2 separate regions of the Homo sapiens genome follow, and region 1 is linked to region 2. Evidence: fine-mapped expression QTL. A gene starts in region 2. The other region holds a variant in brackets. All regions are shown on one strand. Distances are from middle to middle. Region 1 has its middle 21 kb from the start of MAP9-AS1. Region 2 holds the start of MAP9 (microtubule associated protein 9).

What was found.
Region 1: its variant is fine-mapped to the expression of MAP9 in lung (TOPMed, PIP above 0.99).

Annotation. Positions count from the first base shown.
Region 1 is chr4:155,324,429-155,341,398 of GRCh38, reverse strand. No RefSeq gene overlaps it. Among named protein-coding and RNA genes, the nearest start is that of MAP9-AS1, 21 kb to the left of the region's middle. The variant A/G (reference allele first, on the strand shown) is at 8,813.
Region 2 is chr4:155,370,126-155,387,095 of GRCh38, reverse strand. It overlaps MAP9 (microtubule associated protein 9), which reads left to right and starts at 10,131. Exons shown (of 14, transcript NM_001039580.2): 1 at 10,131-10,325; 2 at 11,182-11,320; 3 at 12,075-12,159; 4 at 13,640-13,960. The coding sequence starts at 11,246. It also overlaps the pseudogene YWHAEP4 and the pseudogene LOC100420289. RefSeq lists an enhancer at 10,249-10,678.

The DNA.
Region 1 (16,970 bases), 46 kb after region 2:
TGCATGAATGTTTGTGATGCGTGTATATTATATATATGAACAGGACTTTATAGATAAAATTTTAGAAGTTTTATGAGTATTAAAATAGAATTATAAATTATGAGTATTATAACTTACAGATAGAAATTTGACTTAAATATTACATTAATTTTTCAGTTTCAACAAAATAATCCTTTAATTGAAAAACCGCATATGTGTGTATCATTGCATTAAGTTGGGAAAGAAAATAAGCTCACCTATATTCTAATATTTACAATTAAGTAGATTAAGCCCCATCCAGAGCACTATTTTTTTTCTGTCTTGGTGTCCTTCCTGTGGCAATATTAAATTCAAAAAAAAAGAAACAAGCCCAGTGTTTACTGGTTCATTCAGTCTAAAAAATGAATCCCAGATAGAACTATCTTTTGAATGGAGCTGTAATTCAGATATACCCAAGCGTGGATGCTGAAGTCAAGGTCTACAGTGATGCTTCAATCCTGGTGAACGGATTGCATGGTTGCTTGTGGCTACTTTTTTCTAATTTTTACTTCAGGGGCTCTTCCCACACCCTGAGCTATTTTTCTTAAAATATGAATTTGTTTCTAACACCAGATTTTTCATTTTAACAGACACAATTAAAAGAAATATTTGACTTTTTTCTGATTCTACCACCAGAAAAATAATTGTGTATTGATAAACGTGTAAGGACAAATGACCTCAGTATTGAAGAGGCAAAATGGAGGGGCAAAGGTGATGATGAACTGGGGATACAGAGCCTACCTCTTCCTCAATAACAGCCAATAGTTGCCTTGACAGAATTTGTATTTTAAAATATCAGTGTCCATGTCAACTAAACAAACAAAACTCTTAAAGTGAACACTGCAAGGTCCAAATGAAACAGATCCGCAAGCCTTCCTGGTTATGTTTTCTTCTCCAGAAATTTCCAACTGGTGTGCTGAAGCACATACATGAGCTAAAGTGCACTGATAAACTACAAACGCTGGGGGTGGGGGGTGGGGGGCGCTCCTGTCAGGGAGTTACAGAAGCTCGGGACAGAGCCCAAGTTGAGTTTGTCCCCTCTGGCTCAAACTGCTTCATATAGGCTTCTAGGAGGGTGCCATATGGAGACTCGGGCTTACTGGTGTGCCATTTTGTACTTGCAGGTTACTACAAAGCGAGGGACATGGGCAGTCATTGCTCTACCTCGGCCATGAAGATCCTCAGTCATATGAAATCCATTTCAGTAGCCAGCTGTGGAGTAGGCTACTTCCCATGGATAGGGGCCTGTGGGCTGCTGAAGGGGTTAATTTCTCAGATGCCCAAAAAACATCACTGTAGGGGATCAATCGGTGTGGTTGGAAAAATTATAGGAAATAGACACAAACCTTCTTGGAAGGCCAGGGGGCTTGCATAGCTTCAGTCAAAGATTTGGCTGAAGGCAGCCAGATTCTCTTTTCAGGAGCCAGAGAGCGCAGGGCACAGATACAAAGGAATATAACAGAGTTTATCTAAATAGCTTGTTTACTCATGTGGTCCTAAGACTAACCTTTGATCATTCGCAGGCAGGATGGCTCTCTCTGGGAAGGCTGCCCAGGTTAATTATCCACAGGTTTGTTGACTCAAAGCCTTTGTCATTAATCTGTGCTGAATAAATGCCCACAGGGCCAGCTAGTCAAGGCGTGGGGCTGCCACAACTCTTTCTGTGCATGGCCCGGCACCCTAGCTGCTCTTTCACTGAATAATCAGTGAGTACGTTATTCATCCGTTGTGCATCACTATGGTGGCCAGCCTAATGGCCAGACTAATAGAAGCTGGGTGGTGCCTGGAGGCTACATGGAGTCTCCTGGAAGGTACAGTTCTCTATCTTCAAGTATATACTGCCTTTCATAGTTTGTGTGAGCTTTTAATGGCATCCAAACTAGCTGCAAGGTGACTGCACTATCCATTCCAACCATGGAAGTGCCATTCATCAAACCAGAACTCCATGATTATCTTGATACACTATATTTCACAAAATATTCAACAGGATTTGAAGTTTGCTTTGTCACATGAAATCTTAGCATTTTAATTGTTAATGAAAGAAAAGAATGCTGCTTGGCTACTTAAATATGATCCAATGGTAAGGATTTGATGATGCAGTATATGTTTTCAAAAATTGTATTATCTGTTTTTGCTAACAAAATGTTTGGTCTCTAAAGGTTTGATGAGATATTCTTTAAATGTCTTGATCAGGATTGCATGTGGACATCTCAAATATAAAACCTGATATTAAAAAGTCACACAAGCAAAGTTAGTCCATTTTCACACTGCCATAAAGATAGTACCTGAGACTGGGTAATTTACAAACAAAAGAGATTTAATTGACTCACAGTTCCACATGGCTGGGGAGGCCTCAGGAAACTTACAATCATGGTGGAAGGTGAAGGGCAAGCAAGGCACATCTTACATAGTGGAGGAGAGAAAGAGAGAGAGCAGGGGAAATGCCAGACATATCAAACAAACATCTCGTGAGAACTCTCTCACTGTTATAATAACAGCATGGGGGAAACCACCTCCATGATCCAATCACCTCCCACCAGGACCCTCCCTTAACACGGGATTACAACTTGATATGAAATTTGGGTGGGGACACAGAGCCAAACCATATCATTTCTGCCTCTGGCCCTTCCCAAATCTCATGTCCTTTTCACATTTCAAAACCAATCATGCCTTTGCAACAAACAGTCCCTTCCACCTCTGAGCTTGTAAAATCAAAAGCAAGTTAGTTACTTCCAAGATACAATGGAATACAGGCACTGGGTAAATGTTCCTATTCCAAATAGGAGAAGTTGGCCAAAACAAAGAGGCCACATACCCCATGCAAGTCCAAAACCCAGAAGGGCAGTCATTAAATCTTAAAGCTCTGAAATGATCTGCTTTAACTCCATGTCTCACATCCAAGGTACTCTGATAGAAGGTGTGGGCTTTCACAGACTTGGGCAGCTCTGCCCTTGTGGCTTTTGAGGATACAGCTCCTGCAGCTGCTTCCATGAGCTGGCGCTGAGTGTCTGTGGTTTCTCCAGGCACCTGGTGCAAGCTGTCAGGGGATCTACCATTCTGGGATCTGGAGAATGGTGACCCCCTTTTCTCACAGCTCCACTAGGCAGAGTCCCAGTAGGGACCCTTTAGGGGCCCCAGCCCCATAAATCCCCTCTGCACTGCCCTAGCAGAGGTTCTTCATGAGGGTTCCACCCCTGCAGCAGACTTCTGCCTGGACATCCAGGTGTTTCCATACATTCTCTAAAATCTAGGCAGAGGCTCCCAAACCTCAACTCTTGCCTTCTGAGACCGCGTAACTTATAAACAACAGAGGTTTAATTGACTTGCAGTTCCACATGACTGGGATGGCCTCAGGAAACTTACAATCATGACAGTAGGTGAAGGAGAAGCAAGCATCTTCTTCACAGGTGGCCGAAGAGAGAGAGAGCATGCAGGGGAAACTGCCACTTTTAAAACCATCAGATATCATGGGAACTCCTTCACTATCATGAGAGCAGCAGGGGGGAGCCACCCCCTTGATTCAATCAGCTCCCACCAGGTCTCTCTGTCAACATGTGGGGATTAGAATTTGAGATGAGATTTGGGTGGGGAAACAGAGCCAAGTCATATCACCCAGTATACATTTTCAAACACCTTATTGTGACATTTGATACAGGTTTATTATTTTCTAATAATTTTAAATTTTACTTTTATATAAAGAAAAGGCAATTGTGTTAACCAAGCCTGATATAGGCATTCTTAAAACATTCAGGGTAATTAATAATAACAATTTTTTTTCTGATACCTTATGACAAATATTGGGAACTAGCTCTACCATTCCCAGATAATCAGGTAACTCATGTCTCAGAGTACATAACCAAAGCTGTGACTCTTTCCAGAACAAAGAAGATCTGTCCAGGTCAACTTATCTTCTCCATGCTAGTTATAAAGGTGGTTGTCAACATTTTCAATGATATCTTCTTTTGTTAAAAGAAGAGAAAATGTCTAATCTCCCTGGGTAGTGGGCAAGTTTAGTAAATATTCCAAAGACAGCCAGGTGTGGTGGCTCGTGCCTGTAATCCCAGCACTTTGGGAGGCCGAGGCAGGTGGATTACGTGAGGTCAGGAGTTCAAGACCAGCCTAGTCAACATGGCGTAACCCTGTCTCTACTAAAATACAAAAATTAGCTGGTTGTGGTGGCACACGCCTGTAATACCAGCTACTTGGGAGGCTGAGGCAGGAGAATTGCTTGAACCCAGGAGGCAGAGGCTGCAATGAGCGGAGATCGTGTCACTGCACTCCAGTCTGGGCGACAGAGCAACACTCTGTCTTGCAAAAAAAAAAAAAAAAAGAAAAAAATTCCAAGGACACCAAAAATACATAGTTTTTTGTGAGATATAGGAATGATTTTGGTCAGAGTAATGATTATCTATTATATGGAAGCCCAGTAAATAGATGAGATATGTCAAGTGCTAGTCTTAGTACTGAGTATACATAAATGGAAAAAGCAAAGTTCCTGTGCTCATGCAATTTATTTTCATAGGGAAGAGAAACACTGAACAGATAAACAAGTACATATGTAATGTAATGTTCACCGATTAAAAGTACGAAAACCTCTAAGCAGGGTATGAGGATAGAGTGATAGAAGCTGTTACATAGGATTATCAGAAGTTTGTCTAAAGAATACTGAGATAAACCTAAAAAGAGTGAATGAGCAAACCATGTGAATACCTAGAGAATAACCATGTGAATTTGACCTGTGGGACCTCATAAGGCATGGCACAGACTTGGATTTCATTTTAAGTCTCACGTGTAAAATTGGAGAGTTAATAGCAGTGACTGCACAAGATCGTGTAACATAGATATTTTCCTACGTAGACAATAGACTTTAGGGAACAAGGGTGAAGAGTTTAAGAGCTGTTGCAGTTGTTCAGAAAAAAGATGAGAGTAGTTGCACAGAATGCCAAGTCATCAAATTTCAGTTGTGTTTTGAGGGAGAAACTACAAGATGTGTTGGATGAGGCTGTGGAAAAAAATAGAATCAGGGATGGCACTGAGCAACAGAATGAATGGTGGTACCATTTATTGAAATGGAGAACACTGGGAAATCAAGACTGGAAAGGAAAACAAAGAATTCTGGAAAAGTTAATTTCAAAAGAAGGTATCATGTAGCTAGTTTGGATATTCAAATCAAGGAACAAAACTCCAGAAATGTAAATTTGGGAGTCATCAGCATACAGATGGGATTAGATGGGATCATCTAGATAGTGGGTATAGATTAAGAAGAAAAGGGGGTCCCTGGCCAGGTGTGGTGGCTCACACCTGTAATCCCAACACTTGGGAGGTCAAGGCAGGTGGATTGCTTGAGTTCAGGAGTTATAGACCAGCCTGGGCAGCCTCGGGAGACCCTGTCTCTACAAAAAACACAAAAAATAGCTGGGTGTGGTGGTGCACACCTGTAGTCCCAGCTACTCGGGAGGCTGAGGTGGGAGAATCACTTGAGCCAGAGGAGGTTGAGGCTGCAGTGAGCCGTGATTGCATCACTGCACTCCAGCCTGGGCAACAGAGAGACCCTGTGTCAAAAAAGAAAAAAAAGGCTGGGCACGGTAACTCATGCCTGTAATCTCAGCATTTTGGGAGGCTGACGCAGATGGATCACTTGAAGTCAGAAGTTCAACAACAGCCTGGCCAGTATCCTGAAACCCCTTCTCTACTAAAAATATAAAAAAATCAGCTGGGCGTGGTGGCATGCACCTGTAGTCCCAGCTACTCGGGAGGCTGGGGCAGGAGAATCATTTGAACCTGGGAGGCAGAGGTTGCAGTGAGCTGAGATCGCACCACTGCACTCCAGCCTGGGTCTCGCAGCGAGACTCCACCTTAAAAAAAAACAAAAAAGAAGAAGAAGAAAGAGAAAAAAGAAAAGGGGTCCCAGACTGAACCCTAGGGTAACCCAACATTTTGAGGTCAGAAGGATGAAGGGACTCAACACCTGAAACTGAGAAAGAAAAGCCAGTGTGGTTAGAGAAAATCCAGGAGAGGTGCATTCCTTGGAAAGCAATGAAATAAAGTGCTTCAAGAAAGAGAATGACCAAGTAATCAGAAGACTGATGATTGACTTATTTGGTAATATGGAAGTCAGTGTTGACCTAAGAAATTAAGATTTCAACAGAGTGATGGGGATGAAGACCTGGTTAGTGTTTTCAAGAAAAAGAAGGGAGAGAGGCAATCAGAATCTAAGTATAGGCCACTTTTCGATAAGCTTTGCTAACAAGGAACAAAGAAAATTGGAGAGGGAATCATAGATGAAGGGGATATGGGGTCAAGGCTGGCTTTATTTGTTTTTAAGATAGAAGAATTTATAACTTATTTGCAACAATCATTTAATAAAAAATGAAATGGAATTATGCTTCCTATGCTTTTACAGGCAGCAGATATGGTAGCATTGCAGAAATCAACTAATTTAGGTGAAAATTATGTGTGCCATGCTGACAATAATGTTAGTATTTTCCCCTTTAGCAAGCACAATATAATAAGGAAACCATAATATTGAGTTATAAAGTTGAAATGCAATGTCTGTATATCATGCAGACTACTTGATATCTATTAAGGTCCTTTCAGGACAATGGTATAAATTTCTGCTCTTGCTAAAAAAATATTGACCAGCTGTAAAAGTTGGCAATAATTAATGTTTGTTTGGAATATTTACAAACAAAAAATTCAAGGCTTTGGATAAATTTCCCTAAGTAACAAATATGTTTATATGAAAATTCATTAAAATAATTATAATTTACTATAAATGAACAAGTAATCACAGAAAATATATTATGCAAATATACTTACACATAATAATTTTTAAATTGAAGAAAATACTTACAAGGAAAATAAATAGAAAATATAAATACTCCAGATATATATATATAGTACATTAAAATTTTCAGCTTAGATTGAATGTCTCATTTAAAACTACCCCCATACTAAGAAAAGAAAACAATGACCTTCAAATAAATTATAATTATTACCATCCATGAGTCATGACAGCAAGTGAAATCTGTCATAAATATATAAAAGCAGCTTCAAGGTGTTTTTCACAGGGCAAAAGTATATGTTTTATTAATGAGTCATATAGCAGAGTTGCTTATTTAGAAATTCCCAATAAGATGAGAAAACAAGTCGATGTGTTCTTCATTGTACTTAAACACTCAAACTAAACAAGACTATTACCTGTTTTAATTTAATTAAAAATTAAAACTAGGCCCTGTTTGTCCATTTTTGTTTGTGTTACAATTGCTTTTGGTGACTTTGTCATAAATTTTTTGCCAAGGCTGATGTCCAAAATGGTGTTTCTAGGTTTTCTTCTATGAAACTTTTATAGTTTTAGGTCTTACATCTTTAGTCCATCTTGAGTTACTTTTTTAACATGGTGAAAGAAAGGGGTCCAGTTTCAATCTTCTGCATATGGCTAGCCAGTTATACCAGCACCATTCACTGAATAGGGAGTCCCCTCCCCATTGCTTGTTATTGTCGACTTTGTCAAAGATCAGATGGTTGTAGGTGTGTGGCTTTGTTTCTGGATTCCCTATTCTGTTCCATTGATCTGTGTATTTGTTTTTGTGTCAGTATCATGCTGTATTGGTTACTGTAGCCTTTTAGTGTAGGTTGAAGTCAGTAGTGTGATGCTTCTGGCTTTGTTCTTTTTGCTTAGGATTGCTTTGGCTATTCAGACTCTTTTTTGATTCCATATGAATTTTATAATATTATTTTCTAATTCTGTGAAAAATGACATTGGTGGTTTGATAAGAATAGCACCAAGTCTATAAATTGCTTTGGGCAGTATGGCCATTTTAACAATATTGATTCTTTCTATCTATGAGCATGACCTAATTAAACTAAAGAGCTTCTACACAGCAAAAGAAATTATCGATAGAGTAAACACACTTACAGAATGGGAGAAAATATTTGCGAACAATGCATCTGACAAAGGTCTAATATCCAGAATCTCTAAGGCACTTAAACAATTCAACAAGCAAACAACAAACAACTCCATCCAAAAATGGGCAAAAGACATGAACAGACTCTTCTCAAAAGAAGACATACATGCAACCAACAAATACATGAGAAAATGCTTTACATCACTAATCATTAGAGAAATACAAATCAAAACAACGAGATACCATCTCGCATCAGTCAGAATGGCTATTATTAAAAAAAAAAAGTCAAAAAATAACAGATGTTGGTGAGGTTGTGGAAAAAAGGGAACACATACTCTGGTGGTGGGAGTGCAAATTAGTTTAGCCACTGTGGAAAGCAGTGTGATTTCCCATAGAACTTAAAATAAAACTATCATTTGACCCAGCAATCCCATTACTGGGTATATAACCAGAGGAAAATAAATCATTCTACCAAAAAGATACCTGCATTTGTCTATTCATTGCAGCACTATTCGCAATAGCAAAGACATGAAATCAACCTAGATGCCCATCAATGGTGGTTAAAGAAAATGTGGTACACATACACTATGAAATACTATGTGGCCATAAAAAGAAATAAAATTATGTACTTTAGAGCCGGGCGCAGTGGCTCACACCTGTAATCCCAGCACTTTGGAAGGCCCAGGCGGGTGGATCACGAGGTCAGATTGACAGCATCCTGGCTAATAAGGTGAAACCCCGTCTCTAATAAAAATACAAAAAATTAGCCGGGCATGGTGGCATGCGCCTATAGTCCCAGCTACTCAGGAGGCTGAGGCAGGAGAATCACTTGAACCTGGGAGGCAGAGGTTGCAGTGAGCCAAGATTGCACCACTGCACTCCAGCCT[A/G]GGTGACAGAGTGAGACTCTGTCTCCAACAATAACAACAACAGTAACAACAACAAAAATTAACTAGTTTACAGCAACGTGGATGCAGCTGAAGGCCATTACCCTAAATGAATTAACACAGGAACAGAAAGCCAAATACTGCATATTCTCACTTATAAGGGGGAGCTAAACATCGGGTAAACATGGACATAAAGATGACAACAATAGACACCGGGGACTTCTAGAGGAGAATGGAGAGAAGAAGATGTGGTTTGAAAAACTACCTATCAAGTACTAAGCTCAAGACTTGGGTGATGGGATAATTCATACACCAAACCCTATGTGCAGGTTTGTTGCAATTTACCCATGCAACAAACCTGCACATGTACCCACTGTACCTAAAAGAAAAGTTGAAAAAGAAAATGAAAACATTAAAACGTGATTAAATATATAGTATATTAGAGACTTTAAGGATTTAACCCAAATAATTTCAAATATACTTTCCCTTTTCCTTTCAAGTTATTTTAAAAGTTAACAGATAAAATGTTTTTATGTCTCTGTCTCATCATGTGGTGAACAAAAACAAAGAAAGCCCGTGAACAGAGAGCAGGGTTTTCAGATGTCAAGTGGCTTTCCATGTGGAAGCAGAAGTTATAAGCATGTGACAACCTATAGCCTTTTCAGAGCTATAATTATTTCTGTTAACTTTTGGAATTTAGTAAAAACACAGTCCCTTCTGACCTTTTCTGGGTTTTTTGATATCAGCTGTATAGACAAATAGCCTGAACTAAAAATCAGTCAGGTTAGAGTTCATTGTTACCACTATAAGTTACAGACATTGTCAGTTACTTAGCCAATAGCCATTCCTCAATTCTTCTTTGATAACAGAACCATAGTTATGTCTAGAGCAATAAGGTGCCCAGTCAAATGCTGACTTTGCATCTTTTCTGTGGCTATTGGTGACCAGATGACACAATTCTGCCAGTGCAACTTGAGTTGTCTTCTAAGTTTAAGTAAGCTTTGAATTTCCTAATAAAAGGACAGATACAGTGAGGTTTTCTACCTTCTTTTTGCCTTGTACATAGACATGATGGTAGGAACCACAGCAGTCATATGGTAATAATGAGGGAAAAGCAAGGGAATTCCAGATATATTGACTGCTGAAATAAAGCAACAACTGCTATTTCTGGACCTACATTCTTATAATAAAAATAAACAACTAGGTTTTAAAGCTGCTGGCAACTGGTGTTCTATTACGAGGAACCAAAGAAAATTCTGAATGACACACTCTTATTCTATTCATACACTCAGCAAAAACTTGAAACTGGTGTTCCATAATGTATACACCATTTGGATTCAGCAGTGTATTAGTCAAGGTAACTCTAGTTACTACAATAGGCAACGTTCCAAATTTCAATGGCCTTAATGCAATAGAAGTATATTTTTCAAGTACTTAAAACTCTAGGAAACAAAACCAAGGGTGGAGATGGTGGTAGTGGTAGCACTCAGTTCCTGCAGTCAGATTTGAGCCCTGCCATTCTTTTTTTTTTTTTTTAAGAGATTACAGGGATACAGATGCAATTGTGTTACATGAACATATTGCATGCAGTAAAGTCTAGGCTTTTCGTGGAATCTTCACCTGAATAGTGTACATTATGCCTATTAGGTAATTTCTCATCCCTCACCCTTCTGCCATCCCTCCACCTTTCTGAGTCTCCAATGATCAGAGCCTTGCCATTCTTTGGAAAATGACTCCCAACATTGAGCTGGCAGGGTGGAAACAGAACAGGTAGAGGAATTCATGGAAGGTTTTCACCTGCCAGATCTAGAAGCAGCACACATTCATGCTACTCATGCCAGTGGCAGGAACTCCATACCTGCAATACCTTACTTTAAGGCACATAAGATAGCTGTGGACCCAGAAGGAAAGGGAAACAGATGTGGTAGATAGCCAGTCTCTTCCATAAGTAACAAGTAGAGTTTTTAATGTATATTTGTCAAATTTTTCTATTTTGCTAAATATTTATATTATGTGTATATGTATATATATATACACACATGCAAATATGTGTAAATATGTGTGTATATATGTGTGTGTGTGTATATGTCAGATTTTAACATCTATTGGGTGCTTACTTTATTCTAAGTACTAAATGCTAAATGTTTTTGCAAGCATTTTATCATTATCCCTCCCAAACATCCTATGAAGTAGGTACTATTATTATCTATATTTTACTGTAGCATACTGAGGCTTAGTGAGTTGAAGTAATTTGCCCAAGAAAATAGAGGCAATAAGTGTTGGAGCTAGGGATCTTTCTTTATTCTGAGACATAACTCTATTTTTAAAAAGAACTTCTGCAATTAGGTTGTATTAATGATTAATTATGTCATATCCAGGCTTGACAATATGTATTGATGTCACTTACATAAATAGATTAAATGTCAGGCCCTCTCTCATAAATATCCCTTTCTTTGTATACCTGCCCACTACCTTTGGCCTTTTAGAAACAAGAGTGATTTTTAGGATTGTTCTAGATGAAAATATCTTTACTTCTCAATATTTGGTTGTATAAGCAACTAGCTTCAGGTATTTCTGCTTTGCCTGAATGTAATTCCCAGGTAACTGGGCAATGCCTGATTTGCTATATAGCTTACTTCAACCCTGATCCTCTTGGCCTTTCTGCTCTCTTCTACTGCCTAAAATTTCTCCACAGTCTTCTTTGTTCTCATAAATATTATTGCCTTTGAGGACTGCACTCTCCTTTAGTCCTATATAAAATGGGACTCAGCCAAAGTTGTCTTGATTCCACAGCTTGCAATTGATGCCAGTCTTCTGCCTTTTCGGTGAAATACTTTTTCCCTTCCTTGCTTCCAGCTGTCCAATTCAACAAATTGGTCTCCTGGTTATAATGACAAAAACACTATAGTATTTATATAAATTGACCAAAAAGGTTCTCTGCTCACCAAAAATAAATTATGCAAAATAACAATGACCTGTCCCCAATTTTACATGTATTTTACATAGTTTTACCTCTATAAATGTAATGTATAGCATAAATGAGAATAACAAGTGTCGAAGAGAGTGATGACTTTTCATTTTGCACATCAAGTTTAACTATATAGGATACAAAGAATGATTTGCTTCTATTGCTAAGTGTTTTAGAGATATTCAATTAATTTATTCTTCAGACAGCCCAATAAGTTTGGTTAATGTTAGTATCTTAGCTTTATGCATGTCTGACAGGAGTGAAATGGATACTGAATAATTTGTAATCAAATTCTTAGGAGTCTCAGATTTGAAATCCTAGTGTTCAAATAGTGTTTTCAATTCAAGCTACCATCCCTGCTTGTATTTTCAAAACTCACTGATAAACTAAATCAAGTGGAATTTACAGGGGTAATTTTTAGTGAGTTTTTAAAGAATTATTTACTATTGATGTATAACTTACATAGAGTAAAATGCTCAGATTAAGAATTTCATACGGTCTGTTTGAGAAATACGTACCCTCCTAACACCACACAGAATAGTTCCATCACCTCAGAGTGTTCTCTTTTGTCCCTTCCCAATCAATAGCCTCTCCACACCCTACTCCCATGTATCAACCAATTTAAAATATTTTTCCCTAACTTATCAGCTTGTGTTTCCATATATGAATCTTATATATGATGTTTTTCTTGTAAGAGTCCTGAGAAATCATATTTCATATTCAAAGAGTTTGCCTCAGAATAAGTAGAAATGAGCTTAGATTCTGACATAAATAATATTTAAACTAATTAGCTAACTCTATGATTATTAATCTATCATTCCAAGGATACCATTGCCTGTAGCTGTCGTGAATAGAGTATTTCTAACTGTTAATAATATCGCCTACACACAGGTCAAGAAGCAATCAAGGTTAACACAGAAGACAATGTAGCATCATTGTATGTTTAGATTTTTCCCTCTTTGCCTAGTGATAGATCATTTTAAATTGAGTTTTTAGCCACAGTAGGGAAAGCTGCTATGTTAATGCATAGCATTATTTAATAATTTACCCCAGTATCACTAATGAATAGACCAAAGAGGATCATAGTTTTGCAAGAAAACATAGAGTGGTATATGTATGTATGTGTGTATATATATACATATATATATACACACACATATATATATATACACATATATATATACATACATATATGATGCAGTGAATTTTGCAAATTTCCTTTCCAGTGTTGTTTATCAAGGAAAACTTCTTGTGAAATTATTTCACAAATTCCAGCAAAATGTATAACTGAGTATCCCATCCAAAATTGGTACGCAGTCATTTATGAATTTTGTCAGTGTATACCAATATATACCCGTAAATGCCAGACAAAATTTGCCCAAAATTACAATTACTATAAAAGAAAATAAGCACTATTTTTTAAGAAAATAATCTTGGAAGTAATTCAAAATTAGGATAATCTTTAACCAAATTCCATGGTGGGAGGAAAGTTGGAGTGTTAATAAGGGTAAAGTAGAAAACATGATAAATGTGAGATAAATGTAAACATTTGAATGTTTTTATTCATTTATATTGGTTCCAGAAATAATTTAAATGGGCTAACGGCCAGAGGTTCATCCAGCTCCTTACAACATAAAATATTTTTTAGAAGGTCAGCCTGAAATGTGACCCTCTGTTTGTGTAAGAATAAAATTGCTTCAATATTTCAATTATGTTACTCCATCTGCCAGTGATGAGGTTGTAAATATGTGATCCACTCAGTATTTTGTGTAATTTTATTGGTGGTGACATTTTTCATCTATTATGAAAAGAACAGTCTTCATCACTACCTTCTACCTTATCTCTCACTTCCTCTCCCAATTTGCATTATTTATACTAGAACTACATTATCATTATTTTAAACATTTACATTCCCCTCTACAACCACAGAGGGGAATTAATACTTAAGCACAGCTTAATTAGTACTTAAGCACAGCTTAATTAAGTATTAATTCTTAGTGAGTTAAATGAACTCAGAACTGACCACTAGTCCCTTCCTTTCTTTATTCATTACTTGGTTTTCTCAAGGCTACCCTGTGGTACTTTCTATAAAAACAATCTTGTTGACAATTATATTTCCTGAGTTCTTTTATGTTTAAAAAGATGTAGGGTTATGGCTCTTATATCTTGTGACAGTTTCGCTAAATATAAAGTTATAGGGTGTTTCTTTCCTTTCTTTAGTGTAGTCCATTGTCTTTTAGTGCTGTGAGTGTATCTATGAAGAGGTATAAGACTGGAACCAATTTTTATGCTGTATAGATAACTGTTACGGACTTAATGCCTATGTTTCTCCAGGTTTGTATGTTGAAACTCTAACCCCTAATGTGATGGGATTAGGAGGTGGGGTCTTTGGGAAATAATAAGGTTTAGATGAGGCTGTGACAGTGGAATCCCCAGGATGGGGTTAGCGTCCTTATAAGAAGAGGAAGAGACCAGAGCTTGTTTACTCTCTGCCATTTTAGGACACAATGAGATGGTGGCCATCTGCAAGCCAGGAAGCTGCTCCGCACCAGAACCTGACCATGCTGATATCCTGATCATGGTCTTCCAGCCTCCAGAGCTGTGACAAAAGGACTTTCTGTTGATGAAGCCACCTAGTCTGTGGGGCTTTATTATGGCAGCCCATGCTGATTAGGACAGTGATTTTTTCCTTTTGCAAAAATGATCAAGGGACTCTTTTCCTAGTGTTTGAACCTAGTAATATATACTTGGATATGTCACAGCTTGATCATTCTATACCAGTTTTTCCTGTGGCAGAGAACATTGTTAAAAAAATCTGTGGATCCTAACTGGATTTCATTCTGGAAAGTTTTTTGAATTATATATTTGGATATTTTTGTCTTTAATTCATCAGATTGCTTATTGAGGGACCCAATGATGTATACATCACATTTTCTGTGTCTGCCATCTATATCTAACATATTTTCTCTAATCCTTTTCATCCTTGCTTACTATATTTTACTATCCTCACTTTTCTCAATCCTACATTCTGTGTCATTACTAGGATTTAAGTGGCATCTATTCTATTCTCCTGTTGGTTTCAATGTAACCTTCATTTATGTGATGGTTTTGCACCACTTTTATCTGGAACTCTACTAGTTTATCATCCTCCTGTATTTTTTCTGTATCTCCCTTAACCTCTTAGATCTCTGGTTTGTGTTTTTTGTTAATTTCATGAAAACTTACAATTCAGATTGTTATGGATTGTCATTTCCTCAATGGAGATACTTGCATCTATCATTTCTTCTCACTTCTATTTCTTTCCTCTTTTCCCCACTAGCAGTGGTAGTAGTAAGGTATATAGACCTGTGGTAATTATTCTTATTTATTATTATTCACTTTGAATGACCTAAGTCAGTCCTGGTTCAGTTATTTTAAGGAAATTTATGTACTAAAGGGACCAGAGAAGGCAAAGTGAGCAGGATTTTAGTCTCATTCTCAGTGAAACTTCTGATGTTACGGAGTTGTGTGTATAAGCATGATTTTTCTTAGCATATTTTTCTGAGCACTCACAGCAGATTGGCCTGTCTAAACTGCTCACAATTCAGTTTCTTTCTACTTTTGTGTCATCTACATGCAGTCATGACATTTTCAGTTTTCTCTCTTAGATCTAACTCTCCTATTACTCTACAGAGACACTCAGTCTTCAACGATAACCTCAGTAAGATATGCACCTTGTTCTATTTAATCCCTTTAAGCCAAAACGCAAAGAGGTTTTTTTCCCTCGGTATGCATTTCCATTAGAAAATGATGGTGTTTTGCTAGTTTGAGATCTGCAGTAGCATGCACCCCAGTGGTATGGAGAGAGCTCTATGTCTTCCTAGACCCCAGTGTAATCTTTCCTTAGCAGCCTTTCCTTATATATTGTTGTTTAGGGCTAAGATGACCCCTTGTTTCATCATAGATGGATTTTGTATTTTCTATTTTTTAGATTTTTCTGTTATTGTGAGTTGATTTCTGTAGGAAGAAAATGACAGAGATGTCTTTATAATGCCATCTTAAAATTTTAAGGACATAAATGTGCTTTTGATTTTACAAATTTTTTTCTTTTTCCATCTCTATGGGTGTATGGCAGTTGGCAGTGGAGCCCAACATGCATCATGTGTAGCAAATTTTAAGAGGCCCTAAAATCCCACCAGCTGACCACACTATCACCTTTATTGGCCCCACTTCTATCTCCAAACGCAAAAAAATTGTTAGAGAATTTTGGAAAGTATGTTTAGGTTTCAAGTCATGAAGATAAACATCATAGCATTGAAATGGAGAGACAGAAACTCCCTCACAAAGCCCAGGGGAAAGTGCTTCAGCAAGGCGGAAAACAGGTCTTTCTCTCAGAGGGAAAACTAAAGGAAATCAGCTTACTCAAGACTCAGGACCAGACTTTTTAGGACAGGGGATCAGAATAAAGCACATATTGGAACCACACAAATAAATCTCTTGTGATTCCTGGAGGCCATTCTTTATAGAAGGATGAAGACTGAATTCAATATGTCTGCAAAAGCTATGGTGTTATTTCCATGCAGCAAGGCAGCGTGTAGAGCTGTGGGTATACACTGCTCCCCTAGGGGTGCAGTTCAGGTGACCTATATTGTAACCTTGAAATTGGGGCCATCCCAGGTCTGATAGAAGATTCCCATTTTCCAGTAGAAAGCCTTTTATTAGTTTTATATTGCTGCTGTAAGAAATTCTCATAATTTGAGCAGCCTCACACAATACACATTTATTATCTTGCAGTTCTGTAGGTCAGAAGGCCAGTGTGTGTCTCATTAGACTAAAATCACAATGTTGGCAGGCCGTATTCTTTTCCAGAAACTTGAGGAGAGAATCTGCTTCCTGCTCATTCACGTTGTGGATTGGACCAAGGTTCATATTTTGTTGCTGGTATGTTCCTGAGGGCCATTCCTGGCTTCTATGGGACACCAGTTTTTTTGGTTCATGGCTTGCTTTCTCCACGTTCAGAGCCAACACTGGAGTATGGAATCATTCTAGTGTCTTGACCATCTGGCCCACGCTTCCACCTCCCTCTTCTTTCCAAAGCTCATGTGATTAGATTGGTTCCACCTGGAAAATCCAGGCACTTTTCTATATTGAAGCCAATTGATTAATTTCCTTAATTCTGTAAACAACCTTACTACCTACTTGGCATGTCCTTGC
Region 2 (16,970 bases):
AGTTATGGTCAGGCAAACTAATCTCCAGTGATAGAGTTTACCTGGGGGTAGGGATGCAGGGAATTGAGCCTTCTGTGTGGCCTGAAATGTTTACAGTTGTCCCTCGACGTTTGTGGGGAATCAGTTTCACTACCTTCCACAGATACCAAAATCCACAGATGCTCAAGTCCTGATATAAAATGGTGCAGTATTTGCATATAACCTAAGTATATCTTCTAGTATATTTTAAATCATCTCTAGACTACTTATGCAATCATGTGTCAGATAATACATTTCAGTCCATGCCAGAATGTATATAGGATGGTGCTTATAATCCCATAAGATTATAATGGAGCTGCCCTATACAGGTGTACCATTGCCAAAAATTGATATTTAAAAAGAGATGGGGTCTCTTTATGTTGTCCAGGCTAGTCTAGAAATCCTGGGCTCAAGTGATCCTCCTAACTTGGCCTCCCAAAGTACCGGGATTATAGGCATGAACCACCACAACTGGCCAGGTGTACCAGTTTTTAGTGTTTATACTGTATTTTTATGTGCCTTTTGTGTTTAGATACACAAATAGCCACTATTGTGTTACGATTTTCTACAGTTCTCAGTATGGTAACATGCTGCAGAGGTTTGGAGCCCAGGAGCAATCAGCTCTACCATTCAGCCCAGGTGTGTGTCTGGCTGTACTCTCTGGAGGAAGCTAAGGAGAAATGACCTAAAGGCAGAGGGTGAGTCCGAGGTGGGATCCCGGAACAGGTATGGGAAGTTGGGCAAAAACGGATGAAATCTGAAAAAATTTCACCATATTAACATAATTACTGCATTAATAACCTTAGATAATAGTTCACACTATCATGTAGTCAATAGGATTGCACCCATGTTAAGTTTCTTAATTTTTTAAAAGAGACAAAGTCTCACTCTGTCACCCAGGCTGGAGTGCAGTGGTGTGATCATAGCTCACTGCTTCCTGGAACTCTTGGGATCAAGCAATGCTCCCACTCAGCCTCCTGACTAGATGGGACTATAGGCACATGCCACCATGCCTAGCTAATTTCTTTTACTTTTCTCTAGAGACAGGGTCTATCCATATTGCCAAGGCGAGTCTCAAACTCCTGGGTTTAAGCAAACCTGAGCTTCCCGCCTCTACCTCTCAAATTGCTGAGATTACAAGTGCAAGCCACCACACCCAGCCTAAATTTCTTAGTTTTGACAAATGTGCCATGGTAATGCAAAATGTCATTATTAGGGGCAGCTGGATGGAAGGTGTATTTCTAAAATCATTTCAAAAGTAAACATTTATTTTAAAACAGGAAGGTGGTTATACTTCCATGAGTGTAAAGTACAAAAGGCAGGCTCACAATGCTGTCAGAATTCAGAACACTGGTTGCAGGACTAGGGGCACTGGGAGGGGCTGGGCATGGTTGGCTTTGTGATCTGGGGGCTGGTGTGTTCTATCTTTGAATGACTTTTGAGCTGAACACTTACATGCAGGGATGTAAGTCATATCTTAATAAATTTTCATAAGTTTAACAAAAAATAAAACGAGGATCGGAAGCTTGTTTGGGTTGTGGGACCTCGGGTGCTTATCCAACCATAAGCCCTGGCCCAGATGGTTCTAGAAGCCTGGAAGGAACTGAGAACATTCCAAGTAGAGGTGGCAGAGCCAAGGCTTCAAGGTGGGAGCACACTGCTGCACGTCCCTAGCTGTGAACGGGGTGCCCTGGTTGGAAGCAGTGCTGTGTGCACTGTAGGGCGAGCTAGTCCATGTCCACATTGTGGCTCAGTGCAGTGAAAGCCAATCTCAGCCCCTGCTGTGGCTATAGCAGTGGCTGCAAGGCTTCAGGATCTCACCCAGCTTCTGCGAGGTGAACTGTGACAATGACAGAGCTCCACAGTGCCAGGGTCCCCTGCATGGTCATGCTGACTGCAGCTGGGAGCCCACCACACCCCTAGTGCCCCTCTCTTCCCAGGGCCGGGGTCTAGGCCCTGGGAAGAGAGGGGCACAGTTTGGGACAGAGGCCCCAGGGCATGCTGCTGGCTGGCCGGGGCTGCAGGGATACCATGCTCACCTTTCTCTCTCATGGCCTTAATGAAACCAGCTTCCCATTGAACAGGATTTTCCAAGGTGTCTGGGGCTGCGGGGCAGCTGGTGGGGTGCTACCCTGGCTCCTTCCAGGCATGCCAGTCACTGGCCACCAACGGGGCCAGATGCAGGTGCCCATGTTGCAGCGGGGGTATCTCCCGACCTCCCTCTTAGTCATGATGGGTCTGGGCAGGGCCTGGTGTCGCGGTCCACATGGGCTTCCTGGGCAAGGCCTGTCCCAATGACAGCCCTAGCAAGCAAAGACAACAAAAAAGACTAGCTCATATGGTCCAGCTTTGGGGTCTTGGAAGAAGTTGCTACCAGTATGAGGGTGGGAGGTCAGTTTCCTCCAAGATCCAAAGAGCATGTCAGCCATCCTTGGGGTCAGGAAAGGAGCCCAGCCTCTCCACCAGCCAGACAGGCCTGCAGTAGGATGGGGCTGGGGCTGGCCATGTGGAGCACTTGGGCCGAATGAGGGGAAAAGGAAGACCATGGGGCAGAGGAAGAGCATGGGGGCAGCTGATGGCCCAAGGAGAAGACACTTCAGAGAAGGGGTCTGTATTAGTTTGTTTTCACACTGCTATAAAGAAATGCCTGAGACTGGGTAATTTATAAAGGAAAGAGGTTTAATTGACTCACAAGTCAGGAAATTTACATTCATGGCAGAAGGTGAAGAGGAAGCACCTTCTTCACAAGGCGGCAGGAGGCAGTGAGTGGAAAATGAGAAAGTGCCACATTTTAACACCATCAGCTCTCCTGAGAACTCACTCACTATCAGGGGGACAGCATGGGGGAAACTGCCTCCAAATCCAATCACCTCCCACTAGGTTCCTCCCTTGACACATGAGGATTACAATTCAAGATGGGATTTGGGTCAGGACACAGAGCCAAACCTATCGGGGTCTCAGTCTGTCTTGCAGCTCCCCTGGGGCTGGGCTGAGTGCAGATCTGCTGGCCCTGCTCTACAGCACGTGGGGGCTCTACCTGTACGCTACCATCTGTTGCTTCCTGGTGGTGGTGGCCTGCTTCCTCAAGAGGAGGGCAGATCTGCTCCTGCCAGCCCCCCACAGGACCCTGTGGAGCCCTGGCCATCCTTCCAGGATGAGGACATGAAACTGGCTCCTTGCCCTTCTTGCTGCTTGAGTGGCAAACCTCGGGTCATCCCTAGGTCTTGTCACTGCCCCTGCTTCTAAATGGAGAGTGTTTTGCCAAACCTTCCTGGGAGAGGCCCTTTATTTGTTCTATGCTGATAAAGCCAGATCAAGACATCTTGGCAAGCAGACAAGAGTGGCACCCAGGAAGGGTGAGTGTAGGGTGCTGGCCTTCGGGCTTGCCTGGAGCTGGGGATTACTAGAAAGCAGGGATGTCAGGGCTAAAGTCAGGAGAAGGTGGTTACGCTGGGGGTGTGTGGCTGGCTTGGGTCGGGGCATAAGTGAGAGCCAAGGTTTTTCAGCATGCAGCAGGGGCAGCTGACACCTGGCCTAGGGGCTGCAGAGCCCATGGGTTGCTCTTAGTTCCTGGATCCAGGGGGAATTCTGGAGCCGGGGTCTGGGGCTGCCTAGGGGTGGAGGTGGTGGGAGGCGGGGGGAGGGGCGGGAGAGGGGGCCTTGCATGGCAGGTGAAGGACAGGAAGCCGGCCAGGGGACAGTTTGCAGTGGTTGCTGCCATCCCCGCCTCTACCCCCGAACCCACCCCTACCCCCACCCTGGTGCAGGGTCCGGCCTGAGCATGTGTCCTCTGCTTTGACCTCAGCAGATCACAAGATGGAAGTCACAATTACAAGTGGAAGCACCCCGTCGGTGTGCCACTCGAGTCAGCAGTGACCTGCAGCTTCTGCTTCCTGGAGTGTGGGGTGCCCACCCAGGAGAGCATGGAAAGGCGCACACCCCTGACCTTGAGGGTGCTGGGAGATGGGGGCCAAGGTCCTGCTGCCCTGCAGGTACCCTGAAAGGTGGCCTAGGAGTCCTGCCTGAACAGCTGCAGAGAGGGAGAGGAGGAGGGAGACAGAAGTGGAGAAGAAGGAGACAGAAAGAGATGGGGAGAAGGGAGTGAGATAGAGAGAGAGGAAGAGAGATGGGGAGAGAGACAGAGGAGCCTGAGAGGAAGAGTAGGGAGAGAAATAGGAAGAGAGACTAAAAGGCAGAGAGAGACAGGGAGAGAGGTGCATGAGTAGGAGGTCGGGTCACTCGATCCCAGTTCGCAGTGAAAACCGTAGGTCACCATCGCCTAACCACACATGCAAGGAAGTCTTCTGCCTGCTGCTTGCAGTTCTTGAGAGTTCCTTCTAGAGAATAAAACCTTTGACTGCTGCCCTTCCTCAATGGATTTTGATCGTGTTTTCTGGTGAACGGTGATGTCTCGCCTATTGCCTTCCTGGGCTCAAGGATCCACCAAAAGCTGACACCTCTTCTGGGGAGGCTCTGCAGTGCCTTCATGTCACTAGGTTCCCCAGGAAGCTTGTGAACTTACATTATTATGTAAACTGAAATTATTCACCCTGCACCACCCAAAATTATCTTTCATACCTACATCCACCAAAGGGTCCCATAGCACACTTTGGGAACTGCAGACAGTAAGCCTGGAGCTCCATTGCGCACTCCATCTTTTCACCATCCGTGGGCTAACAGGCTGTGTTAGTTTGCTAGGGCTGTCTTACAGACTGGCCACAGACTAGGCACCTTCAACAACTGAATCTTACTGTCTCACATTACTGGAGGCCATGAGTCTAAGATCAAGTTGTCAGCAAGCGGGTCCCTTCTGAGGGCGGTGCAGGAAGGCTTTTTTCCAGGCCTGTCTCCTGAGGTGTGGGTGGCTGTCTTCTCCTTGTGACTCTTCATTAAGGGTGATTCTGGTGAGAGCTCAGATGAGGAGAGCTGGATAGAATGTTTGTAGAATATGGAGGGGGCTGGGTGTGGTGGCTCATGCCTGGAATCTTAGCACTTTGGGAGGCTGAGGCAGGAGGATTGCTTGAGGCCAAGAGTTCAAGACCAACCTGGCCAACATAGGGGAGACCCAGTCTCTTAAGAAAAAAAAGAATATGGAAAAGAAAGGTCATTCTGATAAGTCTCAGATGGAAATGAAGAACATGTTATTGGAAACTGGAGGAAAGGCGACATTTGTCACAAAGTGACAAAGAACTTGACTGCATTGTGTTCATGCCCAAGTGTTTTCTGGAAGGCAGAACTTATGAATAATGAGACTGAAATTTGCTAGAAGAAATATCTAAGCAAAGTATTGAAGGAGCAGCTTGATTCTCTTGAATGTGTATGGGAAAATGAAAGAAAAGAGGAATGATTTAGAGACAGAAGTTATCAAAAGGGAAGCAGAACTTAAAGATTTGGGAAATTTTTATTCTTCTCAGCCTGTCCATATTTTAACAAATAAAGTGTGGGAGAGAACACAAAGGTTGTGAATCAGGAGACATGGATCAGGACTGTACTCTTCACCAGGACAATGAAAGAGCAACCCGGAAGGTGTTTTGTAAATTGCTTGGGCTGCACTCTCATCACAGGACCATGTTGCCAGAGCATTGAGGGCAGTACAGTTTCCAAGGAAGGCCCTAGGGTGCCCTGGGGACCTTGGGGCTTGCTTCCCAGCAATCCCTGAAGTCACTGGTCCCCACATTCTGGTGTGGCACCCCTTGGTTGCTCCAAGTGTTGCTCAATGGGCCCTGGTGCAGTGGGGGATGTGATGTCACCTCTCCAGAGGGCACAGGCAGAAAACCCTTTGGCAGCATCTATGTGGCGCTAATTCTGCAGGTATGAAGATTTTGCCTTTTCCTTATAGAAACTGTGGAGGCAATGAAGAAAGTAGCAGGGGTGGATGTGTAGCTGTCAGTTGAAGAACCTCCTATCTGTTGATATAAGAATGTGATTGGAGCTAGAAGAGCCTCTTAGAGAATAATCAGCAGCATTGAACCAAAAGAAACAAACAAGGGAGGAGGAGAAAAGCTAAAACCGGTTCGGGAATATTGGCAAATGGTGAGATTGTTGTACAGTAGTCCCCCTTTATCCACAGTGTGAGTTACCTATGGTACGGTACAATAAGATATTTTGAGAGAAAAAGAGCTACATTCATATAACTTTTATTACAGTATGTTATAATTATTCTGTTATTTATCTTTTACTGAGCCTAGTTTATAAATTCAACTTTACCATGGGTATGTATGCATAGGACAAAACATAGTATATATGGGATTTGGTATTATCCATGGTTTCAGCACATGCACTGGGGGGGTCTCCAAATGGATCCCTCTTGGATAAGGAGGAACTATTGTACTTTCAGGAAAAATGATGAGTGTTTTTTTAAAAAAATGTTGAGTTTATTTGTCCCATTCCTCTTTTTATTGAAAGACTCAGCTTTTCTATCCAATGTTGTAGTTTTTAATCTTTGGGTTTTATACAACAGAAGTTATTTTAGGGAGGGGGGTAGTTGTTACATGAATATGTACTAATTTCTGCCTTTTATTTTTATAGTTTTAGAAAATGTCTCCAAGGAAAGGGAGGCTTATTTCTTCTGAGTGGCTGGCTTAAGTCACAGGCTTGTATCTGTCAGTAATTTGGCCATAGTCATTGGCATTTTAGGTCACTGCCTAGTGCACACATGATTATCTATGTAGTATATAATCATAAAATGATTATATGTTGTATATATATATGATTATATATACATATATATACACATATATAATCATATATACATATATATGTATACATATATACTACATTACATATGTAGTATATATATAATCAGTGTACATATATACTATGTACATATGTACAGTATACATATATACTATGTATACATCATATATGTATAATCAGTATACATATATACTACATTATATATGTAGTATATAAAAACATTTTATACCTTAGTAGATTTTTGCCTTTTGCTCACATTGATTAGGCTACAGAATATTTTAGAGCAAAGGCGAAGAACTTTTTCTCCTGGAAGCTGCCAAGGGTGGTGTTCAATTTTGAACACGGCACAACCAGAAAACAAATTGAATTTTTGTTTTTCTTCTGTTAACTAAAACTCTTTATTGACTACCAGAAATGATTATTCATTGCAATTTAACAAGTATTTGTGTTCCTCTTGTGTGCCACAAAATTTGCCTAGGTACTGTGAGTGTAAAGATGAAACAGATAAGATTACTATTCTTGTTGAGGCTCAGTCTAGTCATTGTTTTTTAAACAGAATAGAACATATCAGAGTGGGACACCGTAAGGGAAAGAATGATTTGATGAAGTTATTTCACATACTGTGTGTGTATATACATGTACAAAATGTTTCTTATTGTAGGTCTTGTTCAAAAAAGTTTGATAGCCATTACTCTAGTGCGGTGGTTTTCAATTGAGGTGATTTTGTCCTTCAGAGGATATTTGACAATGTCTAGAGATATTTTTGATTGTCACAGCTTGGAGGGTGCTACTGGCATCTAGTGGGGTGGAGAGTGGGATGCTGCTGACCATTCTACTATGCACAGGACAGCCCCCACAGCAAAGAATGATTCTGCTCAAACTGTCAATTTTGAGAAACTGCTGCTGTTAAGAAACTGATTCTAGTGGAAGAGACAGGCACGTAAACACATGAAAGAGAATAGGGACGGGAATTAGAGGGAAGGTGGAAGGTGAGCTTGGTAAGGAGAGGGAAAGCGGGGGAACCACAGTTACTGACTCACCAGCTCTACTGGGCACTGTCCTGAGTGGGGAAATAATTTTATCATATGTATTTGTGCAAAGTATTGTATGAAATCTTTAAAATGGCACTGGAAGGGGTTGGTATTATCCCAACCTATGAATGCACAAACTGGGGTTAGGAGTGTCTAAGTAACATACCTGAGGTCACACAGAAAGTTGCGAGCTGGGGCCGGGCATGGTGGCTCATGGCTGTAATCCCAGCACTTGGGGAGATGGAGGCAGGAGGATCGCTTGAGCCCAGTAGTGGGCAAAAAAAGTGAGATCCTGTCTCTAAAAATAAAATAAAATTGTAAGCTGGGATTGATGCACTATTACTCTGAAATACGTTGGGTCAAAGAATTTGGATGATCAATGGACAAGTTTTGTGTCCCAGAGGAATGATGAAGTGAGAAAGTTGAAAGTGCTGAAGAAAGAACTCCATAAGCTACATTGTGGGACTTGGGCTAGCTAGGAAAGGGAAGCAGGAAGCAAAGAGAGCAACTGATAAATTGGGGGAAGATGTGAAAAGCTCAAGAGTCTGGACATCTTAGATGAGATACATGCATTAAAAAAAAAAGAAAGAAAGAAAAAGTAAAAAAAAAAAAAAAGAGTCTAGATGTCTTGATGAGTTCCTAAATAGAAATAACAAGAGAAGAATAACTAAAAAAGGAAGCCATGGGCCTTTTGGAGTGGAGTATTACAGTTTAAGACTTCCAGTACGGAGCCCCACAATTAGGGGTATGGACAAGTGAAAGTCTTGGAGTATTGAGCAAAGAATTCTATTGAATGGAACATGGCCACACCATACCTTGGTGTGATCTCAGGTATTGGATAGGTTGGCTGTAGATATTCAGTGAATGTGGGAGAAGGGCCTATATATCTATTGATGACAGAAACTGAGAAATAGAACATAGAATATTGGCTTGTGAGGAGGAAGGGTTTGGAGTAATAGGAGAGCAGTCACTGAGTATGTGAGGACCTAGGAGAACTTAGAAATCTTCCTTCTACAGCAGTCCCTATTTGAAAAGCCCTCAGGGAGATAGTTTATTCAGAAAATAGTTTTGCTTAGCTAAGATAAGAATGCGATTATAGAGGAAAAAGTGAGAGAATGTTTTACAGTGGAAAGGAGGTTCCAGGAGCATGAGGTGAACCTGGAAGGGTTCAACAGTAGTGCCATGAGTTAATAGAAAATAGGGAGCATTTTCTATTCTGGGTATGTGTGTGTAGAGGTGGTGTACATTTTCAGCTTCATAAATGGATACAGATGAGTGGACATATATATATAATATATTATATAATATATATTATATATATAATATATTATATAATATATATAATATAATATATATATACTATTAGTTCTGTCCATCTAGAGAACCCTGATTAATACAGCATTGTATTTTACTAAATTTCTTATTTCTTGTTATGCACATTTAGTTTTTCAATACATTGATTTATTAAATTTCTATCTCAATGTGATTTGTTTATACAAAATTGAATTAGTGAAATATTAACATATTTTAGAGATGTGGAAAAAATACCAGGTATGAGTTTAATTACTAGTCAATGAATTCATTCAGATAATTCAACTAGGATTAAGCTTTTTAAAAATTAAAAATAGTAAAAATTCATATTATTTTAAAGACTTTCAATAAACGTTTTTGGTTTTTATTTGCTTTAAGAATTTCCTATGCGAATTAAATGATGTTGATTTTGTTTACTTTAGTAGCACATGCTCTTTTAGCCTAGTGGATCATTTTGTTTGGTTTGATTGGAATAAGATTACTCACTAAGTATACAAAGAGGGGGAGTTTTACATTCAAGTAAGATGTCAAATGGGCTTTCAGTTGTGTCCACAAGAGCTGAGGTCTCTCCAGGCCCTTTGCGGCTTAGTTGCATGAAGAGCATATCTAATATCGAATACAATTCCAGGCACTCTTCCAAGTGTTCCACTTGTATTATTTCATTCAATTTTACAGCAACCTTTCAGGTGTCTATTATTAGTACACTTTTGTTTTCCCCCAGAAGAAGAAACTGAGTCATAAAGACCTTAACTTGGGACAATCACGTGTGTAGGAAAGGGGTACCAGGATTCAAACCTGCAGTCGGAAACAGGGTTCTGCAAACTCACTACCGTACTATTCTGTCCCATCCACTGACACCGTACTTCGATTCAGAGAACTTCACGTCCTAACTGTGGCAAAACGACGAATGTGCTTTATTTGCAACACGTGCAGATAAGGACCCTTACTCTATTGGCAAGAGTAAGGCTATCTGGGTGGGAGTTGGGCGGGTCCTGTCTCCTAGGCAACAGCACATGCACACAAGCGACCAATAATGAGCCCCTCTCCAAAGACCCAGGAAGGTGATGTCACTTCCTTCGTCTGGGTGGTTGCCCCAGCGACACGTTGGGCCGAAGAGCGGTGTTGGGTACCCGAGAGACCCGGCGGTGGGGAAGTCACTTCCTCCCGAAGACGCTGTTTCCTAGCAACCGCCCTCCGCCTCTGTTATTAGCCCCTCCTCCTCGCTCGGTCCAGGACCGGCTCTGCGGGCGCCGCCAGGCCCAGACCAAGGTGAGCAGCTCCTACCCGATGCTTGGCTCTTGATTCTCAGGGTCGCGGAGAACTGGCCGCGGGCGTCCGGGGCCGGGAACAGAAAGCGGGACCTGGGGGCCATGGGGGATCCGGACAGAGACCGCGCTTGGACGTGCACGGGCCTGGCGTTCGCTGGTGCTCAGCATACGGCGCGGTGAGGAGCGGCGAGCACCCGGACGTCACCTGGCCTGGTAGGGAACGGAACCCGGGGCGCACAACGCTATGGGCGGCCCTGCCAGGCCTCTGCTCCGAGTACGGGAAACCGCGATTTTAATGCGGCTCATCGCGAAAGCTTCGTCGTTTTGTCTGGCTCTCTTTAACACTTTTGTGAGAGGAAAAATTGGCTTGCAATACATCTCGCTGGCTGTTTGCGGGTTAGCATTACGATCTTTTTCTTTGAATAGCGCTGTATGCAAATATATAGATACATTTTTTTTTTGGTGGTGGTGCTCATAATTTTTACGCCGACGATCCTTTTGATGGCCTTTTAAATAAGACGTGACTTATTTTGAAGGCAATGTTATACTTTAGAAGAGAGGTGAAAAATAAGGTGTTCTATTTTAATTGGCAGCATTTTGTCGTATTAACTTGTAATCATTTATTTGCAGACTTTTTAAGTAGTTGCAAAACTATTTTAGGATAACTTCCATTTGAATTTTTTTAAACAAGCTTGTTATGAGAATTTGCTATTTCTTTACAAGAACCTTTTTAAGTGAAGATGTAGCCCAATGTTCATATCAGATGCTTTTCTTTGACCTTTGTGGGGAGAGTAGAATCAAATGTAATAAAATAAATTCTGAAGCATGCGAAGTCTGATTTGTTTTGTATATTTCAGCTACTATCAGAAGTTGAATTCTAATAATTAGCTATTTTATAAAGGTAACGAGAAAAAATACACTATGTCTGATGAAGTTTTTAGCACCACTTTGGCATATACAAAGAGTCCAAAAGTTACCAAAAGAACTACTTTCCAGGTAAAGTATTTTTATTTGGAATCATTTCACAGTGTAAACACTGTATTAGATGGGTTGAAATTGGTGATTCTAGAACAGTCCTATATAAAGCAGGGGTAAATCTTATATTACTTTTGAGGTTTTGCACATGATCATGTTTGGGCTCCATCCAGTATTACAAACTCCCCTATATGGTTTTAAGACTACCAAAGTAGCCTCAATACTAGTTTCCTACTAAGTTAAAAGTTGAATCGCAACCTTAAATTGCCATTTTTATATAAAAACTTTTTTTTCTGTTGTAACATAATGTTTAAGTTTTTTTTTCTGTTGAGTCACTGCAATTTTGAACTCAGCCTCTAAGTTTGCAATATTGATTGCATCCATTTCTGAAATATGCCGAGACAAAAGCTCTTAAAAATACCAATTTCTTTCAAAATACCAGTTTTTAATAAATTATAATCTAAATTGAGCCCCTTCTTATTTGTTACCCTCCAGCTCTAATTATAACCTGCAATTAATTTGTTCCATAATGTGTGTCTCCTCTAGTTAAACTGCGAGCTCCATGAGGAAGGGCTCTTGTCTGTGATGCTCTGCATTGAGTATGAGGCGTAAAGTGGGTACATGGCATAAAGTGAGCTTGCAGGAAATATTTGTTAGATGAATGAAACCTAAGTTTGAAAGCAGTCGTTAATCAAGCATTGTTTGTTTAAAGAATTACTTGTGAATATGATACCTCCATGTTTGGATGGAAATTGATTTCAGTATCTCATTTCAGGATGAGCTAATAAGAGCAATTACAGCTCGCTCAGCCAGACAAAGGAGTTCTGAATACTCAGATGACTTTGACAGTGATGAGATTGGTATGTGACAGTATGGAAACGTGAACCACTTTTCTTCTTTTTGCTTCCTTAGTTTTGTATTTAGCCAGCCCCCCAACCACCCATCCCCTCAATCACGTATGTTAAAATAATACCTAAGCATTCACTAATTTTAGATTTTCAACTTTTTAATTAGTAGAAAGCCACTCTTAATTTTCAGGAAGTTGTATGATTTTCTTTTTTTATTGTTGTTTTGTTTTCTGAATGTGTATACGAAAATATAAATTAATTGATGGCAGGTTTGCAGTAAAAGGATGGCTGCCAGTGGTAAACCACATTGAAGAAGACAGGTTCATCTTTAAGATCAACCCTAGGAGGTGCTACAGCTAGTTAGTAACTAGTCCCACAGAACTAAACTTCGGTGCACATTAGAAGTGCTTTTATAAAGCTTGCTATAAATCAGATTTTTTTTGGCTGTGATAAGGGGTAAATTTAAAAACCACAGACTCTTCGTGTTTCATATATCAGTACTATTATAATTTGGTTTCTCTTAGCTATGTAAACATATTAACATTTTAGTTTCAGGTATAAGCATACAGAATTCTAAACTTGGTGTTTTTGTTTGTTTGTTTTTGTTTTTGAGATGGAGTCTCGCTCAGTTGCTCAAGCTGGAGTGCAGTGGTGCAATCTCGGCTCACTGCAACCTCCACCTCCCAGGTTCAAGTGATTCTCCTCCTTCAGCCTCCTGAGTAGCTGGGACTACAGGTGCCCGCCACCATGCCCGGCTAATTTTTGTATTTTTAGTAGAGATGGGGTTTCACCACATCGGCCAGGCTGGTCTCGAACTCCTGACCTTGTGATCCGCCCGCCTCAGCCTCCCAAAGTGCTGGGATTATAGGTGTGAGCCACCGCACCCGGCCTGGTGTTTTATTCTTTAAAATTTGGTGAATAATTGTAATTGATTTCTGTAAAACCAGTAATAACCACAGTTAAATCACTGCTGTATAGTTAACTTAGCATTTCTTATGATTCTTAGTAAATCTAATATTCTGGTGTGGATGGAATTGTAGTTCCAAAATTTTTATGGAAAAAATATAATTAGTAATTACTAATTAAATTCTTCCATTTACAAATGTTCTTGATTTTACATGAAGAAGTAATTTGCAAATAAAAGTTTTACAGTCCATAATCTAATTTAAATGCTACATGACTGATTGTTAGGGACCTTTGGATGGCTTTTTCCAGAGCAAACAGTGTTTGGTTGTTTGGTACCCTACAGACAACACAATAAATACATTTTGAATAAATTAATGAAATTGGAATTTTTATTTCATAAATGTTAATGAGACGTGCCTGAGTTAGCTGTGTTTTTAGAGCTGCAAGTCTATTTATAAAATACATTTGTGCCTATTCATTGTTAGAATTTTGTTTGTAGCTTTTAAGGTAAACTTTGATTAAGTTAACGTAACCTTGACAATTTTTAAAAATACTGTTGAAAACATTTTTCTTTTCCATTTTTCAGTTTCTTTAGGTGATTTTTCTGACACTTCAGCAGATGAAAATTCAGTTAATAAAAAAATGAATGACTTTCATATATCAGATGATGAAGAAAAGAATCCTTCAAAACTATTGTTTTTGAAAACCAATAAATCAAACGGTAACATAACCAAAGATGAGCCAGTGTGTGCCATCAAAAATGAAGAGGAAATGGCACCTGATGGGTGTGAAGACATTGTTGTAAAATCTTTCTCTGAATCTCAAAATAAGGATGAGGAATTTGAAAAAGACAAAATAAAAATGAAACCTAAACCCAGAATTCTTTCAATTAAAAGCACATCTTCAGGTAATTTGTTAGGATTACTGTAATTGCATTTCTTGGAAGTTTATTTTAAGATAATCAGTCCCAAAATTTTTATATGGTAGCTAGTATATATTTAAGAAAAAAAGACAGACTTAACTTCCATTTTACAGACCTGTTGTATTTTGTCTAACTTCAATTTTACAGACCTGTTGTATTTTGTCTAACTTCAATTTTACAGACCTGTTGTATTTTGTCTTGCATCTAGGCTGTTGCCTGATAGAAAGCCAAAGCACAAAGCCAAAGCACCTTTAGTCATCCATAGCATCCATAGCTGTGGATCTCCAGACACCTAGACCTGTGAGCTTCAGTTTTGTTTGTAGGTGTGGAACTGGAATGGAATGCTGTCTAATCCCTCTCACACTCCAAAGATTAGAGTTACAGCAATATTGAGACTAATCCTTCTAACAGTCTTTGCCATACCAACATTGTGCCAGAAAATTTTCTTGACATTTGTATATTTGAAGGATGAGTTATGTTATTGCTGCTGTTGTTTGTTGAAGCATCCAGGCACTCCTTAAGAGAATCTCCATTTGATCTCTGTATTGCCTATGAAAATCTACTAAGATTCAGTTTTCCAAAGGAAAGTTCCTGGTGTGATCTGGGATTACAGTTAGTTCTGCCCACAATTTTACTGAATTTTAAGCATAAAGGAACAAAGATAGAATGAAACGGAGACCAAGTCCTGTCACATACCCTGGGCCACCATTCATGAACTTGTATATGCAAGGTTAAGGATTTTTTGTTTTTCATTCTTTGTATTTTATAAAGGAATTATTAGTTGATGTTAACCTTCATAAAAATCTCCTTGCATATCATCAGTAAATACAGTGCTGGTAAATATTTCATACTTTGCATATTAGATACCAGTGGTAACGTCAGACAAAACTTTATTTCAGGCATGTATTGGGGAACTGCTCCTTTCTTCCTGACCCCACAATCTCATTAACTTTGAAATGAGCAAAGGATGTAAGCAGAGCAAAGAACACTAGAATAATATCCAGGACACTGGGGGAAAGGCCTCTGTATATTATATATGACTTCAGCAAATAAGTTAAGCTTCAGTATCCTCATGATGAGGAAGCTAAAAATAACCCTCTTTCTATTCCTGCAAAATTGTGAGAGTTTATTGAAGTGCATCTCATAAACTATAAAAAACTACAAAAATGCAAACAGATGCATAATGAAACAATTAACTTGTTAAAATGTACCTTCTAAGTATAGTGAGTGAAATCAATGCTGGAGAGAAGAGGAACATAATTGAACTTCGTTATTAAGAAAATGCGAGCATATATAGCAACTAAAAATTTGTCTGAGACAGGTGGATGTATATAATTAGAAGTTTATGGTAGATAATCAGGAAAGCAATAATCCACCTATTTCATACCTTAAAAAAAAAAAAAACCTGTGGTGGGTTACAATGAATAAGAAAATACTGTATTTTAACCACAAGGTGGCATCAGGATCCTAAATGCTCTACTTATATATGCAATGTTATATTCAGTACGTGTAATATAAAAATAATTACCTAAATAGGTAATTGTATACATTGATTACCAAAAAAAGCGCTTTTCTTAAAGTATAGGCATTTTTTTTTCTTTTTGGGAACTTGACAGTACTTCTGGAAGTGGAATTTTTGTAGAAAATATATTAAAGTTGTCATTCTCAGGTTCTTCAGGTTGAAAAGTAAAAATTGAGGCTAGTGTTCCTAAGATAATATCTGGCATATATAATAAGTATTTAAATGAATAAATTAATATATGAATGATTTATCTTTGAAAGAGGGAATATGGTTCATGAGTTTATCCTCTAAATTCTTTGACTTTTTTTTTTTCTGTACAGGTTTGGAACTCAATGTTTTTAATGTGGTGAGATATTGCTGAGTAGCAAGTAATGCTTTATGAAACTATTAGAGCTTGAAGGTTTTCTCTGTCCTTGCTTGTCTTTTGTAAAAAGTATAATAACCAGACTTTATAGTCACTACTGAAGTGACAGTTGCTCTATAAAGTGAAAGTATTTTTCACAGGATATGTTTTTATTTTAATACTAACATGACTGAAATCATGAACTTTGGAGTCAGGATGCTTCTCCTTTAATCTGAGATCTGCAGCCTGCTAGAGTTTGTGACTTTGGGCATGAGACCTCTTTGTTCTCATTTTATTCATCTTTAAAAACGGGATAATAGTTGCCTGCCTCTAGGAGTTTGAGGCAATTAAATGAGTTCACATATTTGAAGTGCTTAGAATAGTACTGGCATAAATTTAGCACTCTATAAATGTTCTGATTATTCATTTTATTATTTAGCGTTTGTTTATAAACATGCTCAGCAGGTATAAAGTATCAGTCATGCGGGATGCGTAAGTTCTAGAGATCTGCTGTACATTGTGCCTATAGTTAACAGTACTGTCTTTTGCACTGAATGTATTAAGAAGGTAGATCTCATGTTTGTTCTTACCACAATAATAAAAAAAATTGACTCAACACCTTCTTTCAGGCATTATATAATATTCTGCTTAAACTGAGGCTCAAAAGACATGCAAGCATTTGTCAGGAGGAGAAGCAGGAAGTGGATATTCTAGGCAGGGGGATCAGCTTAGGTAAAGGTATGGTAGCAGGAGGGATTGGAGGGATTGTGGTATGTGTGCATGACAACTGTTAGCCCAGCATTTCAGAAACACAGATGACAAAATGGCTGTAGATAAGGCAGTGAAGGACAAAACCATAAAATCCGTTTTATGTTGTTTAAAGGCAGTTAAGCTTTTATTCTGTAGGATTGGATCATGGGGAGCCATTGAATAATTTTGTAGAAAGGAGTGATGTGATCTGATTTGGATTTTGTAAATATCATGGAAGCAGTGATCTAGGAAAGAGTGGATAAGGACCCGACAGCAGGGATGTAGAAAGTGGAATAAATGAGATATTTGGCAATTAGAATTGATAGGATATATTGATACTCTGGATTTAGGGGATAATAGAGGGAGGAATCTAGAGCCCT